Linked DNA regions of Homo sapiens: region 1 is linked to region 2. Evidence: fine-mapped expression QTL. A gene starts in region 2. The other region holds a variant in brackets. All regions are shown on one strand. Distances are between the middles of the regions. Region 1 has its middle 28 kb from the start of TMEM92-AS1. Region 2 holds the start of NME1-NME2 (NME1-NME2 readthrough).

Region 1 (10,275 bases), 840 kb before region 2:
TCCCTTACTCAGGTATTGTTTCCTAAGAAATAAGCCTCCTGAAGGCCAAACTCCACCTCTGCATCTGCTTCCAGAGAAGCCCACCTGTGAAGCCCTCCCAGCCTTTCACTCCTCTCCGTTTCTGTTAACAGAGGATTCTGACTCATCCAGGGCTGAAGTTCAAGGACAGAGATGATAGAAAGAGAGGCAGGAAAGCTCTTATTTCACTGATGCTGCCATGCAGCCCCAGCCTCTGTGCTCTCTGGACTTGGGACATATTTGAAGCTGACCCTCTCACTGGCACTTACAAGAGTTATTCATGGGCTCAGTCCCCTTCCCATTGGGGGATTCTACCATCTTAGTGTCAGAAGTGGGCTCCCCAGACATTACCATCACGACCAACTGATAAGACAAAGCTGAGCTTATTGCTTCCAGCAGAGGTGAAAGATAAGGTCAGGATGTACGGAGAACTGGAAGTTTGGTTTAAAGTGAGTCTTTGGGGGAGGGAGAGTTGGCTTGCTTCAGACAGGGCAGAGATCACAATACAACAGTCCTGGATTGGTGGGAAAAGCAGGCTAGGATTTTGAACCACAATATTCAAAGAATCTTAGGGTTCAAACTGTTGATGCTTTCCACTGAAGAGCTGATAGGTCTTCCTGGAAGTTGCTGCAATGAACGGTTGAACCATTTGCTTAAGCAGGACAGTCCCAGAAGAGTAGAGAAATGCAAATGAAGACAGTGGCATAACCAGGTCATGTTACTCTAGACTGTAAGGTGTGATTTCCATTCTCACTGTCCAGGACAAGTGTGGGGAAGATGGTTTTGGTTCTGATTAATCATTGGTTCAGGAGACAGACACACCCCAGGCCATAGAATCACAGCACTGCTGGGATGCTCAGAAAAAAAGACTTCCTGCTGTTCTCAGTAGGATTTGAACTTGTAATATAAAGTCTGGTTGCTGCTGGCAGCCACTCTAAGAGGAGAGCCTTCCTGAGGGTATGGTCAACACAGAAGAAAGAAACCAAGCAATGGGAAGAGAGGAACTGGTCCTGAGTGAATCATCTGAGCCCCTGTGTTCAGCACCACCTATGCTGGTCGGACACCTGAGCCAGCACTCCGCTGCTTCCACTTAACCTGGCTAGGCCATTTTCTCCTATCAGGTGTAAATGGGGAATCCCCATGCACTAACAATGGGCCAGTGCTCCTAATCCCGGTGCCCTACTGCGTGTTTGCCTGGACTGGCCTGAGGCAGAGAGGGAGGTTCCAGTGATATTAAAGTGACTGTTGGCATTGAAGAGTCCCAGTGAATTACACTTTATGATGTTCTCTCCTGCAGCTCTGAACCAGATGAGAGATTGGCAAAGAAGCTAGGTAGATGACAATCACAATGTCAGCTTTGGCTGGATGTGGTAGCTAACGCCTATATTCCTAGTGCTTTGGGAGGCTGAGGGCAGAAGGATCACTCGAGGCCAGGAGTTTGAGACCATCCTGGGCAACACAGCAAGATCCCATCTCTATGAAAAATTTTTAAAAGTAGCTAGGCATGGTGATGCACACCTGTAGTCCCAGCTACTTGGGAGGCTGAAGTGGGAGATCTGCTTAAGCCCAGGAGTTTGAGGTTACAGTGAGCTACAATCACGCCACTGCACTCCAGCCTGGGTGACAGAGAAAGAGTCTATCTATAAAAAAAAAAAAAAAATTTAAATAAAGTCAGCTTTATTACTGTCACAGCTGGAAAAGAGCATGGCTTAGCTGAGCAACAACAACAGATTTCCCAACATTGTACCCCGGAACCAGGCTGACCTGTCCCCTGGTCACAGGCAGTGCTGGGCAAATGGTCCTCTGTAGCTTACTATGCTAAATGTGGGCTTCCCATGGGCACCCAGCTCCCACGCAGAGGGAAGGAGCTGGGAGGGCCTGCCTGGCTCCTCCGTGGAAACTCAGAAACTTGAGAATCAGATGTCACACCTCCTGCCCTGGGGAGGAATGAGGGAGAGGGTGGAGCGAGGCCAGGAGCTTAGCCTAACAAAGCTGCTTTCACAGGCAGCATGAAGCAAGATCTCAGGAGGTCTCCCGCCACCTCCCCAAGAACTAATCAAAAGCCCAGGAAAGGATTAAATCTAAAGTCCAAGTGGTTTTGTGTTAACTCAGAGCTGCTCCACTTCAGTGCCACTGACATTCAGTACCAGGTACGTCTTTGCCATGGAGGGGCTGTCCTATGCTTTGGAGGAATGGACTGAGCAGCATCCCTGGCCTCCACCCACTGGATGTCCACAGCATCTCATCACCCCCACCTCCCAGTCATGACCAGCAAAATGTCCCCAGACATTGCCAAATGTCCCATGGGGCTGACATGACGCCTGGTTGAGAACCGCTGGGTCAGGTGATTAGAAAGACAAGGATGGGCCCCTCTCCTAGATGCCACAGCTGCAGGAGTCAGGGGAATGCACCCCACCTGGAAAGGAAAGGACCAGAGGTGAAAAGAAGAGTGAAGCTGTTTCTCCTGGAGATAGGTGTGGTGGCAGGGAGTTAGTGGCAAGGCAGGAGTCTACCACTGGGTGGGCAAAGAGGAACACATGTGGCAAATCCATGCTGAATAAGTCTGATTCCGCAGGACGACTGAGAAGAGTTCCATGATGGAATAACGTATATGATGTGGGTGGCGTTTAGGGATACCAACAAGGGGCAGGGAAGCACCCTCAGACAAGCATCCATGGGGCACTCTTGCCTCCACCATGCCTGAGGGTAAGGGCAGGAGGCGGTCCCCAGGCTGTAGGAGAGAGCCTCTGGGCAGGAGCTGTGGCCGTTGGGAGAATAATGCCACCACTGCTATGCCCAGCCTGTCTAGTCAAATCAATATCCCACCTTACTTGTGCCTACCCTCTGATCTCTTATGGTGCCTTTCAAAGACCAAACCCAACTGGAAGGTGGGAAATGGGCCCTGGGGGCAGATGAAGATTACTCAGCACACACACCATGGAGTACTTTACAAAGTTAGAAGCAATGGATTAGATGCACCCAGGGCCACATGGACCGATCTCAGAAATATAAGAATGGGTGAAACAAACAAGCAACAGAATGAGATATATAACCCGATAGCATTTGTGAACATTTAAAATGTATGCCTAGAAAAAATACAAAACATCAATACTCCCTGTACAAGAATACATGCAAATGAAAGACTCACAGATTATGAGCCTATGGCCAGGCGCGGTGGCTCATGCCTGTAATCCCAGCACTTTGGGAGGCCGAGGCAGGCGGATCACTTTGAGCCCAGGAATTTGAGACCATCCTCGCCAACATGGCAAAACCCTGTCTCTACAAAAAATACAAAAATTAGCTGGCATTGGTGGCATGTGCCTGTAGTCCCCAGCTACTTGGGAGGCTGAGGCCAGAGGATCACTTGAGCCTGGGACCAGGCAGAGAATGCAGGAGCCGTGATCATGCCACTGAACTCCAGCCTGGGCAACAGAGCAAGACCCTGCCTCAAAAACAAAAAAAGAACATGTGCCTATGATGGGGAGGGGCTGGAGACTGGGATAGGATATGTGGATAAAAGAGAATAATTACAAACAAGAGAGGGGACTTACATGGACTAGTGATGAGAAAGTGCCATGAACTAAGGCATATGATTAACTAACTCAAATGTCTGCAAATGAAGTTTAAAAACAGCGGGGAAAGAAAAGGAAGGGAAGAAGGAAGAGGGAAGATAGCCCATCAGCCCTGTCCAGCATGTCTTGGGGGAGAGGAGTCGGGGTGGGAGCCCCTCAGGGGCGCTCAGTCTCTGGTCTGGAGGGGCGCAATCCCAGATGGGGAAGGAGTTGCCTCAGGGAGCCTCTCAGAACTTCCTTTTCACTTTTATAAAAATGGGAGACACATCAAGAGATTGTACAAGGGCAAATGCCGTCCTCATTTCCCAAAATGATTCTAGAATTTTAAGCCACCAATCTTGACACCTTTGATTTTGGAATGAATTCAAGTCCAAAGACCCGAATGGAGCCCCGACTTTGTATCCAGCCGGGTATGAATCATCCAACAGATGGTGGGTGCACATTTAGAAACCAGCCCGGTGAGCCCTCAGAGACAGGCTCTTAAGACAGCCCTGCCAAGCTAAGCTGATGTTCTCTTCTGACATCAGAGAATTTGTGGGTTCTACTCTTTCTGGCTTCAGGGATTAGCTGTGGCTCCACAAATTCAAGTCATGGGGAGTGGGGAGGTGGCAACTGTCAGAACAGGAAAGCAGATGTTAGGTGCTAGCTCAGCCTGAGTCACATGTCCATGCTGGAGCAGAAGCCAGTGGGCACTGTGATTGACAGCACCCTCACCAGGACTCCAGGGAGGTGGGC[G/A]CACTTGCTGCAAAACAGGGGTGCTAATACCGGAAGAAGGCTGATGAGCACACAAAACCAATAACTATGACAGCCCTCTAGGATCCCCTTGGAAGTGGGGATGAGATGTAGGGGAGTGGAGGAAGAATTTCATCTTTTTTTTTTTTTGAGACAGGGTCTTGCTCTGTCTCCCAGGCTGGAGTGCAGTGGTGCAACCTCCCAGGCTCAATTGATCCACCCACCTCAGCCTCCTAAGTTGCTGGGACTACAGGTACTCACCACCGCAACCAGCTAATTTTTTTATTTTCGTAGAGACGGGGTTGCTCAGGCTGTCTTGAACTCCTGGACTCAAGTGATCTGCCCGCCTCGGCCTCCCAAAGTGCTGGGATTACAGGCGTGAGCCATAACGCCTGGCCCCTATTCTTACTTGTAACAAAACAGGCATTTTTGGTTATTTTAATCTACTATTGCCTTTTATACTGGATTTCTGTCACTCGCAATCAAAAGAATCCTGACTGTTCTACAAGCAATATGGGGGGGGGAAATCATTTTTGTGTTTAATTTCAGTATCCATGTGCTTTGCCATAAATGTTTTTTAAGAATTTTAAACTATTTTGGCCAGGTGCAGTGGTTCACGCCTGTAATCCCAGCACTTTGGGAGGCCGAGGCAGGTGGATCATGAGGTCAGGAGATTGAGACCATCCTGGCTAACATGGTGAAACCCCGTCTCTACTAAAAATACAAAAAAACAGCTGGGTGTGGTGGCAGGCGCCTGTAGTCCCAGCTGCTAGGGAGGCTGAGGCAGGAGAACGGCGTGAACCTGGGAGGTGGAGCTTGCAGTGAGCTGAGATCACGCCACTGCACTCCAGCCTGGGTGACATAGCAAGACTCCGTCTCAAAAAAAAAAAGAATTTTAAACTATTTTAAGGGTTTTTTTTTTAAATTTTGGTGGTTAATTCTTAATTATGACATGCATTTTAAAGATACGCTTTCAGTGGTTTATCATATTTTCTCTTTTCCACATAAAACTTTTGAATTATTTATTGGCAAATGTGACTTGTTTAAAGTGTTAATTTCATGCTTTTGCAGGTGTACATTTAGAAATGAGCACAGTGAGCCTGCAGAGACAGGCTCCTAAGACAGCCCTGCCAAGCTAAGCTGATGTTCTCTTCTGAGACCAGGGAATTTGTGGGTTCCACTCTTTCTGGCTTTGGGGAGACTGTCTGACTACAGAAATATTGGCCACCTAAAGAATTTAGGTCCTTGCCACTCGGACAAGCATGACCAGCCCCAGTTCCCACAAAGAAACATCTGTCTTGCTTCATGTCATGGAGTTGCTTGTATAGTTTAAGTTTCGAGTACTTGTCTGAGCAAGTCTGTCTTTTCATGGATGGCTGAAAATGCTTTATGAAGACGTACACTTCACAAGAGTTAATAGCAGAAAGCACTGTGTCAAAACCCAAGACATAAATGTAATTAAAATCACATTGTATTTCCTGTTGGTTGCTGAAGTAGACATTAAGAAAGTCTTATCTTTAATAGTACATTTAAAATTCCCTGTCATAGAAAATTATCTTTAAATGATAGCTCAGAAAAGAAATACAAAAAGCTCTCATGCCATTTATTATTAATGTGATTTATGTTAAGTCTGTCAGTGGAATGCTGAAAATGTGCCAATGAGTTAGCTCAAGAAATGATGCAAAATTAAATATTAATGAAGCACTCAAACAAGCACCAATTACACTGCAGTATAAGCTTGTAAATATTTCCATAAGTAATTTTCAGTCCGTATTCAGGTAGCACTATGGAGCAAGAAAAGAACCATCATTAATTTATGCAGAAACCTTTTTTACTAATAAATTTTCCAAATCACAAATTTAATTTTAGCTTTTGATTTTTAAAAAGGCAATAAACTGTTAAAGTTTGTACTTGAATTCATGGATACTCTTTTTTTTTTTTTTTTAAAGATGGGGTCTCACTATGTTGCCCAGGCTGGTCTTGAACTCCTGGGCTCAAGTAATCCTCCCACATTGGCCTCCCAAAGTGCTGAGATTACAAGCATGAGCCACTGTGTCTGGCCTTTTCTTTTCTTTTCTTTTTTCTGACACAGGGTCTCACTCTGTCACCCAGGCTGGAGTGCAGTAGTACAATCATGGCTCACTGAAGCTTTGATCTCCTGGGCTCAAGTGATCCTTCCACCTCAGTCTCCCGAGTAGCGGGGACTACAGGCGTGCACCATTATGTCCAGCTGATTTTTTTAAATTTGTAGTAGAGATGAGGTCTCACTATGTTGCCCAGGTTGGTCTTGAACTCAGCTCAAGCAATCCTCCCTTGTCAGCCTCCCAAAGTGTTGGGATAACAGGCCTGAGTCACCATGCCCAGCCCATGGAGAGTCTTTATGTTGCAAGTGATAGAAAGCCCAATTCACATGGTTTAAACAAGGAGAATTTGCCTGCATGCTTTAGAGAAAAGTGCAAATAAAATGCCGCTTCAGGCAAGATTTTATCCAGCAGCAGAAATCCCAACTCACGTGGCTTAAACAAAGAGAACTTGCCTACATGCTTACCTGAAATGTATACTTGAAATGTGGCTTCAGGCAGGATTTCATCCTGCAGCTCAAAGGATGTCACCAAGAACCTGGTGTCTTTATGCCCTTCCTCTCTGTCTTCTGCTGGGTCAACCCCTTCCTCAGGTCAGTGGCTCCTAGAGTGCACTACCTCTCTCTCTCCCCTTCAAAACCAGACCACTCATTCTCCAGCTGTAGGGAAGATTGGCTGCTGATGGCTCACAGCTCTCGCAGCTGAGCCTTCAGGCATTGTTTCATGTTCATAAATGCCCAGGCTTTATTTATTCCCATCCAAAGACTATCCTCCGCCTAGCCCAAGCTTTATGTGATCTGCCAATGATTGGTCAGTGCAGAAGTACAAAAGCGTAGTCCTCCTGCCTAGATCTGAGACAACTCTGAAGGGCCACCTCAGGTCCAAAGCTCCCTTTAGCATCAGTTGAGGCTGTGCTGCAACTGCAACCCAGTTCCACTTTTCCACTTCTCCCTCTGCTCAACCTGCTTCGTTTACTACCTTACAAGTATTGTTTCTGAGACCATGGCCCAGTCACTTCCAGCGTGTAAATATCCATCACAAATCTATTGGCAGGGAGGGACCCAGACATGAGGCAGCTGAGGCCAGGAGTAATTTTTAGGAAGCAGATTCTAAAATAGGTGTTTGGAGCTGGAAGGTGGAGCAATAATTGCCCCTGGCATTCTAGCGTGGTGTACTTGTTTAAACTTTCACTGGGGATGTGCAGGAATGATGGGAAACTGATGGAAGGGAGGCACTGGTGGAAGCAAATTCCCAGGCATTTGAGAGGTTTGAGTGAACTAGTAATATAAGGACTGTGAAATCAGATGGCTCTGGGGCTAGCAATGCTTAAAGGAAGACAATGAAAGTTTGAGAGTACTTAATCATCAGTTTGAGACAAAGTGTGAAAGTCTCTTGGCAGCATATAGAGACTCTGTAGCTGGAGGGCAGAAAAAGCTAAGGATCAGCCCGAAGCTTCATTATAAGGGTAATGCAGCTTCAGAGAGGTTGGATTCTCAATCAGAGCACGTCCGCTCTGTCAGGTCATACCCCAGTAGAGAAGGATCAGAACTCAGAGACTTGGGATGGCACATCTGGGTCAATGCACTAAAAAAATCTTGAATCTCCAGATTCCACTGAACCCACTGGGCCTGCAGAAGCGGCCCCCTGCCCACTGTTAAGGGCTAAAACTCCCCTCATGCTTGAAGATAGTGCAGGGCCTCTGCTTTGCAAGATGAAATGCACCTCCCTCCTGGCCACCAGACAAATAGCTATCAAGTCACAACAAAACCGGCCAGGGATGCGCCAGACCTGCTGCTGAGGAAGGAATGAGACTGTACCCTGGAGGAGCTGCAGGAACTTGCCAACATGTGCTGGCAGGATTCAGGAGAGTAGAGATGGGACTGGATTCTGAGGATGAGGATCAAAACATAGAGCTTGATAGGAAAGAATATTGAATAGGAGTGTGCTCCTGTGATGCAGGATTTTACCCCCTGGCAAGGACCCCAGGAGAAGGTGCTAGAATGGCTCTTGGAAGCCTAGAAACAGCACTGGCTCAAACTAAGTTAAGGAGAAAAGTTCAAACAGCATGGCAGATGGCAGAAGGGATCAAATGGATCAAAGGAGAGGGTTTGCTCAACCGGATCAGCCTGTGTCGGGCCTGCAAATTCCCCAGCTGACTATGTTCCCTGGGAGAGCCCATAAATCACTCTTTTACCAAAGCAGTAAAGAAGGTGCTGGTGGAGGAGGAGCAGCAGCATCGAGAAGTCTATCGTTGGCCATTCTCGGGGAGGCCGTGAGGGTGGGAGATGCTGTTACAGAGCGGGGTGGTGGGGGTGGGGGGAGCTGATAGTAATAGGGATAAGAGGAGCCCAAAATAATCAAGGCCAAGTGGCAGTGTTACAGGAGAGGGGTCCCGATCCAGACCGCAAGAGAGGGTTCTTGGATCTCACGCAAGAAAGAATTCAGGGTGAGTCTGTAGAGTAAAGTGAAAGCAAGTTTATTAAGAAAGTAGAGGAATAAAAGAATGGCTACTCCATAGACAGAGCAGCCCCGAGGGTGGCTGGTTGCCCATTCTTATGGTTATTTCTTGATGATATGCTAAACAGGTGGTGGATTATTCATGCCTCCCCTTTTTAGACCGTATAGGGTAACTTCCTGACATTGCCACGGCATTTGTAAACTGTCATGGCGCTGATGGTAGTGTAGCTGTGAGGACGACCAGAGGTCACTTTCATCACCATCTTGGTTTTGGTGGGATTTAGCCGGCTTCTTTACTGAAAACTGTTTTATCAGCAAGGTCTTTATGATCTATATCTTGTGCCAACCTCCTATCTCATCCTGTACTTAGAATGCCTAACTGTCTGGGAATGCAGCCCAGTGGGTCTCATTTTACCCGGCCCCTATTCAAGATGGAGTTGCTCTGGTTTCAACGCCTCTGATAGCAGCACTTATCTGTCAGAAGGTGGGCACGATTCTCACACTGAGCAGCAAGGTCAGGGAGGCAGCCAGAGGTCCTGCTGCAGAGAACTAAGTAAATGGTGTTTTTTTCCTTTCTTTTTTAAGATATATTTTTAATAGTAAAGATGGGGTTTCACCGTGTTGCCCAGACTGGTCTTGAACTCCTGCACTCAAGTGATCTGCCCGCCTTGGCCTCCCAAAGTGTTGGGATTACAAGTATGAGCTACCATGCCAAGCCGGAAATGGTTAATAGAACATAATATTCCTAGTGGTAAGATAGATGAGCAGCCAAAAACAGCTTATTTTATTTTATTTTTTTAATTTATTTTGAGACAGAGTTTTGCTCTTGTTGCCCAGGCTGGAGTGCAGTGGTGTGATCTCAGCTCACCACAACCTCCACCTCCAGGGTTCAAGCGATTCTCCTGCCTCAGCCTCCCAAGTAGCTGGGATTACAGGCATGCACCACCAAGCCCAGCTAATTTTGTATTTTTAGTAGAGATGGGGGCTTTTCCTTGTTGGTCGGGCTGGTCTCAAACTCCTGACCTAAGATGATCCGCCTGCCTCAGCCTCCCAAAGTGTTGGGATTACAGGCATGAACCACCGCGCCCGGCCCAAGAGCTTATTTTAAAACATCAACCACCCAACAAAAAGTCATGATTCCTTGTCCTGTTTCCAGCCTAAGTTAAGATCTAGAACGTCCTGAATGAAGAAAGACACTGCATCAGCTGGCATATGGACAGGATAAGGTTCCACCAGCCCTTCCACAGGGAGAACTTGAGTAATCATACACTGGGGAAAGAATGCAGATCTTTTGAGAACTGTTGAACATAGAGTCCAAATTGACATTGATACCAAGGAAACTGAAGCATCATCACGGCACCTTATTAGGGTGGTGGAATATGGGGTCAAGTAATAAGTATAGTCCCAGCCATGAC
Region 2 (10,141 bases):
GTGTGAACAGAGCATAAGTTTTCATTCCTGTTGGATAAACGCCCAACAGTGCAATGGCTGGGTCATATGGTAAGCACATGTTTAGTTTTTTAAGAAACTATCGGCCGGGCGCGGTGGCTCACGCCTGTAATCCCAGCACTTTGGGAGGCCGAGACGGGCGGATCACGAGGTCAGGAGATCGAGACCATCCTGGCTAACACGGTGAAACCCCGTCTCTACTAAAAATACAAAAATTAGCCGGGCATGGTAGCGCGCCCCTGTAGTCCCAGCTACACGGGAGGCTGAGGCAGGAGAATGGCGTGAACCCGGGAGGCGGAGCTTGCAGTGAGTCGAGATCGCGCCACTGCACTCCAGCCTGGGCGACAGAGCGAAACTCCGTCTCAAAAAAAAAAAAAAAAAAAAAAAAAGAAACTATCAAACTTTTTCAGAGTGGCTGTACAATTTTATATTCCTACCAGTAATGTGGATCCAGTTTCTATACCTCCTTAATAGCGTTTGGTGTATCACTACTTTCATTTTAGCATTCTGATAGGCATGTAGTAATATCCGATTTTGGTTTTAGTTTGAATTTCCCTGGTGGCTAATGATGTTGAACATCTTTTCATGTGCTTTCTTGCCTCTGTATATCCTGTTCAATGAAATGTCTATTCATGTCTTTTGCCCATTTTCTAATTGGATTTTTTTAACCTGTTGAGCGTTCAGAGTTCTTCAAATATTCAAACCTTCAAATGAAGAGAAGGCCTTTATCTGATATGTGGTTTGGAAATATTTCCTTCCACTCTAGCTTGTTTTTTCGTCCTCTTCAAAAGGTCTTTCACAGGACAAAGGTTTTAAATTTCTTTTCTGCAGGGCACAGTGGCTCACGCCTATAATCCCAGCACTCTGTGAGGCCAAGGTGGGCGGATCACCTGAGGTCAGGAGTTTGAGACCAGCCTGGCCAACATGGTGAAACCCCGTCTCTACTAAAAATACAAAAATTAGCCGGGCGTGGTGGTGCACGCCTGTAGTCCCAGCTACTCGGGAGGCTGAGGCAGGAGAATCACTTGAACGTGGGAGGCAGAGGTTGCAGTGAGCTGAGATCCGCCAAGGCACTCCAGCCTGGGTGACAGAGCAAGACTGCATCTCAATAAATAAATAAACAAATAAATAAATAAAGGCCGAGCACGGTGGCTCATGCCTGTAATCCCTGCACTTTGGTAGGCCGAGGCAGATGGAACACTTGAGGTCAGGAGTTCGATACCAGCCTGGCCAGCATAGTGAAAACCCGTCTCTACTAAAAATACAAAAATTAGGGCCAGGCGCGGTGGCTCATGCCTGTAATCTCAGCACTTTGGGAGGCTGAGGCGGGCGGATCACGAGGTCAAGAGTTTGAGACCAACCTGGCCAACATGGTGAAACCCCGTCTCTCCTAAAAATACAAAAAGTAGCCGGGTGTGGTGGTGGGCACCTGTAATCCCAGCTGCTCGGGAGGCTGGGGCAGGAGATTCGCTTGAACCCGGGAGGCGGAGGTTGCAGTGAGCCGAGATCGCACCACTGCACTCCACCCTGGGCGACCTGGCAAGGCTCCGTCTCAAAAAAAAAAAAAAAAAAAGAAAAAGAAAATACCGGGCGTGGTGGCAGACGCCTGTAGTCCCAGCTACGCGGGAAGCTGAGTCACGAGAATCGCTTGAACCCGGATGGCGGAGTTTGCAATGAACCGACATCGTGCAACTGCGCTCCGGCCTGGGCGCCAAAGCGATACTCGGTCTCAAAAAGAAAAAAAAGAAAACAGGAGAATAATGAAATTTTACTTATTTATTTTATTTATTTTTTATTTTTTTGAGACCGAGTCTCGCTCTGTCACCCAGGCTGGAGTGCCCTGGCGCAATCTCGGCTCACTGCAACCTCTGCCTCCCGGGTTCAAGCGATTCTCCTGCCTCAGCCTCCCGAGTAGCTGGGACTACAGGCGCCTGCAACCACGCCCGGCTCATTTTTGTATGTTTAGTAGAGACGGGGTTTCACTATGTTGCCCGGGCTGGTCTCGAATTCCTGAGCTCAAGTGATCCTCCCGCCGCTGCTTTCCAGCGTGCTGGGATTACAGGCGTGAGCCACCGCGCTCGGCCAAAAGTTTTAAATTTCAGTAAGTTCCAATTTATCAACTTTTTCCCTGTATAGATTGGTCTTTTGGTGTCGTCTAAAAACTATTTGCCTGGCCCTAGGTCCTGAGGATTTTTTTTAACTTTTTTTTTCCCCATAAGTGATTTATTGTTTTACATTTAAATCTATGATTCATTTTGAGTAAATTTTGTATAAGGTGAGAGGTTTAGGTTGAGGTTCTTTGGGTCTATATTCGTCCAATTGCTCCAGCATCATTTGTTGAAACGGCTCCTGATTCCATTTTTGTACCTTTCCCCCGTTCATTTCCCCTTAGAGCAGTGGGAATGTTTTTTTGTTAGTGATGATGTCATGCCTTGTGCAAAATCTGTATTAGCATCTCACAACATAAGATTTGGCTCTATTCTAACGGCATTTTCCACCACTCGATGTCCACCGTAATACTTGGCTCTCGAAGAATCACTGGGCTGGCTCCCTCACTTCATGCAGGTCTATTCTATTATCACTTACTCAGAGATTTCTCTGGCCTTTTCTTCACAGCACTTACAAAATGCGATCTATTACATATTAATTTGCTTATTTGCTTCTTGTTTTCCTATACTCCCATCCCTCCCAGAAGCTCCAAGAGAGCATACTGTTTTATCCCTAGGGCCTAGAATAATGCGTCCACGTAGTAGGTACTCAAAATTTTTTGCTTGACAGGCTAGAAAAGGTGAATAAACACAAAGCGGGAGCGAAAAGTCTACTTCTAGGTCAGGCACTCTTTGGACTTCACGCAACGTGTGAGCGCCACCTCTCGGGAAGCCAATTTGCTCGCGAACGAAGGAAGTGAGTCAGAGAACCCGGGGGTGGAGAGAAGAAAGCAAGCAGCTAACCGGAAAGGTCTGAAAAAGCTAGCGCCGGAAGTTAAACTGCAGAAAGTTGTTCCCTAGAATGACTGCCTACTCCCAAGAGGAAGCGTGGGCGAGCGGTGTTCTGCAAAATGGGCTCTCCGGCAGCGGATCTGCGCAGAAGCGTTCCGTGCGTGCAAGTGCTGCGAACCACGTGGGTCCCGGGCGCGTTTCGGGTGCTGGCGGCTGCAGCCGGAGTTCAAACCTAAGCAGCTGGAAGGGTAAGAGGTGTTCGGGATCCTGAGAGGAAAAAGAAAGGAGTGTAGTCGCGGGAGTGGGTTAGGTGAGGAGTTAGTGAAGAGATGAGTTCAGCTCTAAGAGGCGGCGAGGAGGATCGGATGGGAGGAGGGGCAGGGAGCGCCTGTGGACAAGTGCAGACCGGTCGGCGCACGTCCCACGCCACGTGGACTCGCCTTTGTCGGTGGCCGCCTTTCTCGTCAGGCCGCGACGACAGGGCTGTGCCTTATTTGTGTCTGTCGAGAGCAGTGCCGGGCACGGAGTTGGCGCTCTGTAAGTGCTTGCTGAATAAATGACGGGTGTGTGTGTCATTCATTCAGCAAGCACTGAGTGCTTACTGTTGTGTCACCGGGACCGATGTGGAGGGACATTTTTAGGGTGTATTTCTGGCGCTTTAGTCCTGTTTTCTCCTGGACAATTTATGCTTGCCCCGCACCCCATCGTGCGATTCTCCGCAGTCTTTGGGCTTTGTCTCTCTCTCTTTTTTTTTTTTTGGAAGTTGCAGAATGGTGATAAATGATTTTCTTTGCTCCTATTGACTGCTAGGCCCTGTGGCTAGGTACCATAGAGTCTCTACACAGGACTAAGTCAGCCTGGTGTGCAGGGGAGGCAGACACACAAACAGAAAATTGGACTACAGTGCTAAGATGCTGTAAGAAGAGGTTAACTAAAGGACAGGAAGATGGGGCCAAGAGATGGTGCTACTGTCTACTTTAGGGATCGTCTTTCAAGGCGAGGGGCCTCCTATCTCAAGCTGTGATACAGGGTAGGTCATGAGCGCAGTCTTCTGTAAAATGAGGGATCTGGACGGAATAGTTACTCTCTAGGCTTCCTTTCAGTATGATGTCCCGTATCAGATATTCCTAATGTCTGTAGTTCTCCCACACCCCACCGTTTATTGGCTAGTCAAAATATTCTTTGCATTGTAAAGTGTAGCATAACATTACAAGAATGGATTAATGGGTTGGGAATGCTGGGTTTTGGCCTTCATTCTGGTGCTGTGGTCCTGTTTCCTCATTTGTAAAATGAAGGGGGTTGTAAAGATATATTCTCTAAAACCCCTAATGCTATGGCTGTGGCATTAAGTCAAACTATTATTTCTTACTGCTTTGTACCGGACATCACTTTCACATTAGTAAAACTTTTCATCAGTGTAGTTTCTCCCAAGCTTGATTATTGAGAAAGATAGTGCCTTGTTTTTAACATCCTGTATCCTAGTTCCACCGCAGTGTTTGGTACACAGTAGATGTTTAAAAGAAGCTTATTAAATCAAATGGTGGCCAGGCTCATGGGGCTCACGCCTTTAATCCCAGCACTTTGGGAGGCTGAGGTGGGCAGATTACTTGAGGTCAGGAGTTGGAGACCAGCCTGGCCAACATGGTGAAACCCCATCTCTAGTAAAAAAAAATACAGAAATTAGCTGGGTGTGGTGGCACGCACCTGTAGTCCCAGCTATTTAGGAGGTTGAGGTAGGAGAATTGCTTGCCTGGGAAGTGGAGGTTGCAGTGAGCCAAGGTCGCACCACTGCACTCCATCCTGGGCGAAAGAGCAAGACTCCATACCAAAAAAAAAAAAAAAAATCAAATGGGGCTGGGTGTGGTGGCTCATGGCCATAATCCCAGCACTTTGGTAGGCTGAGGTGGGCAGATCACTTGAGGACAAGAGTTCGAGACCAGCGTGGGCAACATAGCGAAACCCCATCTCTAAAAAAACCCCACAAAAACCAAAACAAATGAAAATAAAATAAATCAAATGGGATAGAAATTATAGTCCTTGCTTTTGGATCCTTTCCCACATTGACATATTAGTTCATAGATCAGGGGACTGGGGAGGAATTGGGTTTTTACCAGAGGGAGACCTGGAGCTGACCTGACAGATTTAAACCAGCTTTATGGGATAATCCGCTTGAGACGGATGACGCTGTAGGCAAGTGATTCACTGCTGTTTCATTCCTCTACCTGCCTATCCCCAGAACCATGGCCAACTGTGAGCGTACCTTCATTGCGATCAAACCAGATGGGGTCCAGCGGGGTCTTGTGGGAGAGATTATCAAGCGTTTTGAGCAGAAAGGATTCCGCCTTGTTGGTCTGAAATTCATGCAAGTAAGTGGACTTCATTGTTCCCATTTTGATTCCTTCATAGTATAGGAGAACACTGTGATTAACCTGTTTCTCCCCGTCTTTCTTATTTAAAGTTCTCCACGGTAGAGTGAACACAAGTGTCTTGAGACCTGGAAACTCCTCAGTGCCCTAGCGTTTGGCTACATCTTGGAACAAACCAAGTTATTTAGGATTTTCCAAAATAGTCTCTGTAATAGGAGGTGCATTGCTACGGGAAAAGCAGTGCAGAGTTCCACATATGACTGCATCTCTGTAATTTCTGACTGAGAGCTGAGCATGTTTGAGTTCTTGGTCTTGAGCTTCCTGAGCAGATAATTTTAGAGAGATTTTTTTCCCCCTTTGAGACAGGTTGTTTTTTAGCAAGAAAGTCTTTCCATCATCAATTACTAGACACTAATAAATGCTTATTGTTTAGCATATATTAGGTATCATAGGAGCTGGTGGAGGAAAACTATGGTTTTGGTTTTGGGGAGGTTCTTCAGAAACAGCAGAGAGCAGATGTACCTGCAAGCTACTTACAAAGCAATCTTTTGATAAATGCAAAGGATTGATTGACCAATAACCCTTCTTCAAACAAATTCTAGAGATAATCCAAATTCTCGGCTGGGTGAGGCATAGTGGCTCATACCTGTAATCCCAGCACTTTGGGAAGCCAAGGCAGGCTGGTCACTTGAGGTCAGGAGTTCAAGACCAGCCTGGCCAACATTGTGAAACCCCGTCTCTACTAAAAATACAAAAATTAGCTGGGCATCAGGGTGGGTGCCTGTAATCCCAGCTATTCGGCAGGCTGAGACATAAGAATTGCTTGAACCAGCCAGGTGCGGTGGCTCATACCTGTAATCCTAGCATTTTGGGAGGCTGAGGCGGGCGGATCACCTGAGGTCAGGAGTTCGAGACAGCCTGACCAATATGATGAAACCCCGTCTCTACTAAAAATACAAAAATTAGCCAGGCGTGGTGGCATGCGCCTGTAATCCCAGCTACTCGGGAGGCTGAGACAGGAGAATCGCTTGAACTGGGGAGGTGGAGGTTGCAGTGACCGAGATCGCATCATTGCACTCCAGCCTGTGCAACAAGAGCAAAACTCCATCTCCAAAAAAAAAAAAAAAAAAGAATTGCTTTTGAACCCAGGAGGCGGAGGTTTCAGTGAGCCGATATTGCACCACACTGCAGCCTGGGCAACAGAGGGAGGGAGACTCTGTCTCAAAAAAAAAAAAAGAATTCCAATTCTCAAATCAAATAGGGGATAGTATGTTTTCTAAAAGGGAATCAATTTTGGACCCTTCTAGTGCATTTTAAAATTTAGTTTGACTTGCAATTTACTTCCTATGTGATATTTTAGAAAAACTGCTTTAGGGCTGGCACAGTGACTCGCCTGTCATCCCAGCACTTTGGGAGGCTCCGTCTCCAAAAAAAAAGAAAAAAAAGAAAAGAAAAACTGCTTTAATGTAAAAGAGGGTAGACTGATGTTCATGCTGAGAGGAGAATATGGTGTCCAAGGTCAAGGAGCTGGCATCTAATGAAGGTTTTCTTGCTGTATCATCCCATGACAGAATGGAATAGCAAGAGAGTGCAAGAGTGAGAGAGAGCAAGAGGGGGCTGATGTTGATTTTATAACAAACCCACTCCTGAGATAAGACATTAATCTGTTCATGAGGGTGAAGCCCTCATGACCTAAACACCTCCCATTAGGCCTCACCTCCCAACATTGTTGCATCGAGGATTAAATTTCCAACATACGAACTTTGGGGGACACATTCAGATCACAGCAGAAGGTAACATGAGATGGATGTGTTGTTGATCAGGCATTTACCATATGCTGGGCACATATGTTTTCTGATTTAGTCTTCATGCCAGCCTTGAGAAGTACTTACTCCTGTTCTCGTGGTTGTTAGTGATGAGCAACCTAAGGCTTGGAGAGGTTCAGTGATGTGCCTGATAGCATACAGTGATGCCACTGGAATTTTAACTTGAGTCTCTCTGACCCCTGAGTGCAGATACTTTCTCCTTTACATTGAATTTCCTATTAAGGATATATGGGTTTGGTGAAGAATGGACGGAAGGATAGCTGCCATGACTCTAAAGGGGCATTTAAATCTGGTGTGGAGGCAGGAAGCAAGGGAGAACTTGAGGTTCCCAACCCCCAAGCCCTTAAAAAAAGCCCGTGATCTGTTTTGCAGACTAAAGATAATCAGTTAGGGCCTGGCGTGGTGGCTCACACCTGTAATCCCAGCATTTTGGGAGGTCAAGGTGGGTGGATCATCTGAGGTCAGGAGATGGAGACCAGCCTGGCCAACGTGGTGAAACCCCGTCTCTACTAAAAATACAAAATTTAGCTGGGTGTGATGGCGCATGCCTGTAGTCCCAGCTACCAGGGAGGCTGAGGCGAGAGGATGGCTTGAACTCGGGAGGTGGAGGTTGCAGTGAGCGGAGATCGAGCCACTGCACTCCAGCCTGGGTAACAGAGCAAGACCCTGTCTCAAAAAAAGATAATTAGCCGGGTGTAGTGGTGCACACCTGTAGTCCTAGCTACTGAGAATCTGAGGCAAGAGGATTGCTTGAGCCTGGGAGTTTGAGGCCGCAGTGAGCTATGATCATGCCATTGCACTCCAGCCTGGGTGACAGAAAGACCCTGTCTCAAAACAAACAACAAAACCAACAAAAAGATAATTGGAACCAATTAATAGAATTAAAAAAGTATTCTGATAAGGGAAGGTCACCTCAGGGTCTGTTAGACTTCCACAACAAAAGTCTTCCATTTGGATAGGAAAGGACAGGGCGAGGGTTGGATCCCTACCACGGAGTGATTATATGGCCATGTAATTTTACTTTGGCAAGTGATGATAACTGGTGGCTGAATGATGGGGCTTCTGGGCAGCCAGTCTCCACATCTGTGTGTGTCTCTGATGTGTGTGATATGCGTCATACAGTGCAGTACCACAGAGCTGGAAAAACCATGGGACCCTGTTAGATTTTAACAAGCGTATATGCAGTACAAGAGAGAACACAGCCAAACTGAGTTGAAACTGCTAAGCAGATGGTTTGTTCTCTAGCTAACTTGATTCGTTCCCACATATTAGCCTTGCAGTATGAGAGGTTCTAATTCATTTTTCAGCAAAATTATTTATTACTAGATGTCATGCACTTTTGGGTGATTTGCAGATACCTTTGGTAATCACATGGTCATCACTGCTGGGCTTTTATCCTCTGAATAAACGTGAAGCATCCCTGGGTAATGGCCTGGTTTAGTTTGCTGCTCATTAAATGCCAAGACTTGCTTCCTGGTGTCCTTCTAACATTTTATTTGGGGTTTGCTCTGGGAATGGAAATTTATTGTATTGTTGATTTTCCTGTCTAAAATGAGATAGTTGAGGGCCAGGCATGGTGGGTCACGCCTGTAAGCCCAGCACTTTGGGAGGCGGAGGCTGGAGGATCACTTGAGTCCAGGAGTTTGAGACCAGCCTGGGCAACATAGTGAGACCCTATCTCTACAAATAATTTTTTAAAATTAGCCAGGTATGGCTGGGCGCGGTGGCTTACGCCCGTAGTCCCGGCCCTTTGGGAGGCCAAGGCAGGCAGATCACCTGCGGTCACCTGAGACCAGCCTGGCCAACATGGCGAAACCCTGTTTCTACTAAAAATACAAAAATTGGCCAGGCATGATGGCCGCCACCTGTAATCCCAGCTACTTGGGAGGCTGAGGCAGGAGAATCACTTGAACCCAGGAGGTGGAGGTTGCAGTAAGTCAGGATCACGCCACTGCACTCCAGCCTGGGTGACAGAGGGAGACTCTGTCTCAAAATAAATAAATAAATAAATAAAATTAGCCAAGTCTGGTAGTGTGTGTCTACAGTCCTACCTACTCGGGAGTCTGAGGCAGGAGGATCACTTGAGCCCAGGAGTTTGATTTTTTTTTAAATGAGATAGCTGGATTTAATTTTAATGTTCTGTGGTTTTATTATCAGTCAGTGCCAATAGGGAGACAACTGATATAAAATTGGAGAAGTACATTTAGTCCTGTCACTGCTCCCTTCCAGTGTGGAGAATGAATTGGGTTATAACAGAATCAGTGAGCCCAACCGCTCATGTTTTACATAGCAGGGTGGATGAGGGGAAATTAAATGGATTATATGTCCTTAGATGGTTTGGGGGTTATTCTCATTCTCTGTCCTGTTGAATAGGCTTCCGAAGATCTTCTCAAGGAACACTACGTTGACCTGAAGGACCGTCCATTCTTTGCCGGCCTGGTGAAATACATGCACTCAGGGCCGGTAGTTGCCATGGTGAGTGTGCCTGTGTGGGATACTCCAAGTATGCATTGCTTGTCATCTGTGCTAGGCTCTCTTCTAGACACTGGGGATACAGCCATGAATGAGACCAAATAGATACCTGTTTTCATATACCAGCTAATGGTTAGTGATAGGCTTCAGAAATGAAATATGCCCAGAAATGAATAGGAGTAGCAAATGATCACTTTAGATTGGGTGATCAAAGAACGCAATTTTTAAGCTGTGATCTGAATGACAAGAAGCAGCGATCTGAATGACAAGAAGCAGCCAGCCATGTACAGAATCACAGTGAAAAACATTTCCAGCCAAGCAAACAGCATGTGCAAAGGTCCCAGGGTGGGAATGAGCTTGGCTTTTTGAAGTACGGGAGGAGAGTTGAAATGCCCGAAGCCTGATGGGTGGGAGGGAAGTTGGGAGGTGAAGAGTTCAGAGGCATGGGCAGGGGCCTTCTCTCTTAGGGGTGTGTTGACCATATACTTCCTGAGTGCTGGGAAGCTATGGGACACTTCAC

The links. PIP is the estimated chance that this variant, and not a neighbour inherited with it, causes the effect. A credible set is the group of variants that fine-mapping cannot tell apart.
Region 1: its variant is the best candidate, but not a certain one, in a credible set for the expression of NME1-NME2 in esophagus mucosa (GTEx, PIP 0.72).

The regions. Positions count from the first base shown.
Region 1 is chr17:50,310,529-50,320,803 of GRCh38, forward strand. No RefSeq gene overlaps it. Among named protein-coding and RNA genes, the nearest start is that of TMEM92-AS1, 28 kb to the left of the region's middle. RefSeq lists enhancers at 880-1,398, 5,645-5,774, 7,495-8,074, 8,075-8,653. The variant G/A (reference allele first, on the strand shown) is at 4,326.
Region 2 is chr17:51,150,458-51,160,598 of GRCh38, forward strand. NME1-NME2 (NME1-NME2 readthrough) reads left to right here and starts at 3,102. Exons shown (of 9, transcript NR_037149.2): 1 at 3,102-3,205; 2 at 3,768-3,987; 3 at 5,194-5,323; 4 at 9,523-9,624. It overlaps NME1 (NME/NM23 nucleoside diphosphate kinase 1), which reads left to right and starts at 3,102. Exons shown (of 5, transcript NM_000269.3): 1 at 3,102-3,205; 2 at 5,194-5,323; 3 at 9,523-9,624. The coding sequence starts at 5,198. RefSeq lists enhancers at 2,415-3,614, 2,638-3,169, 2,953-3,372, 4,769-5,300.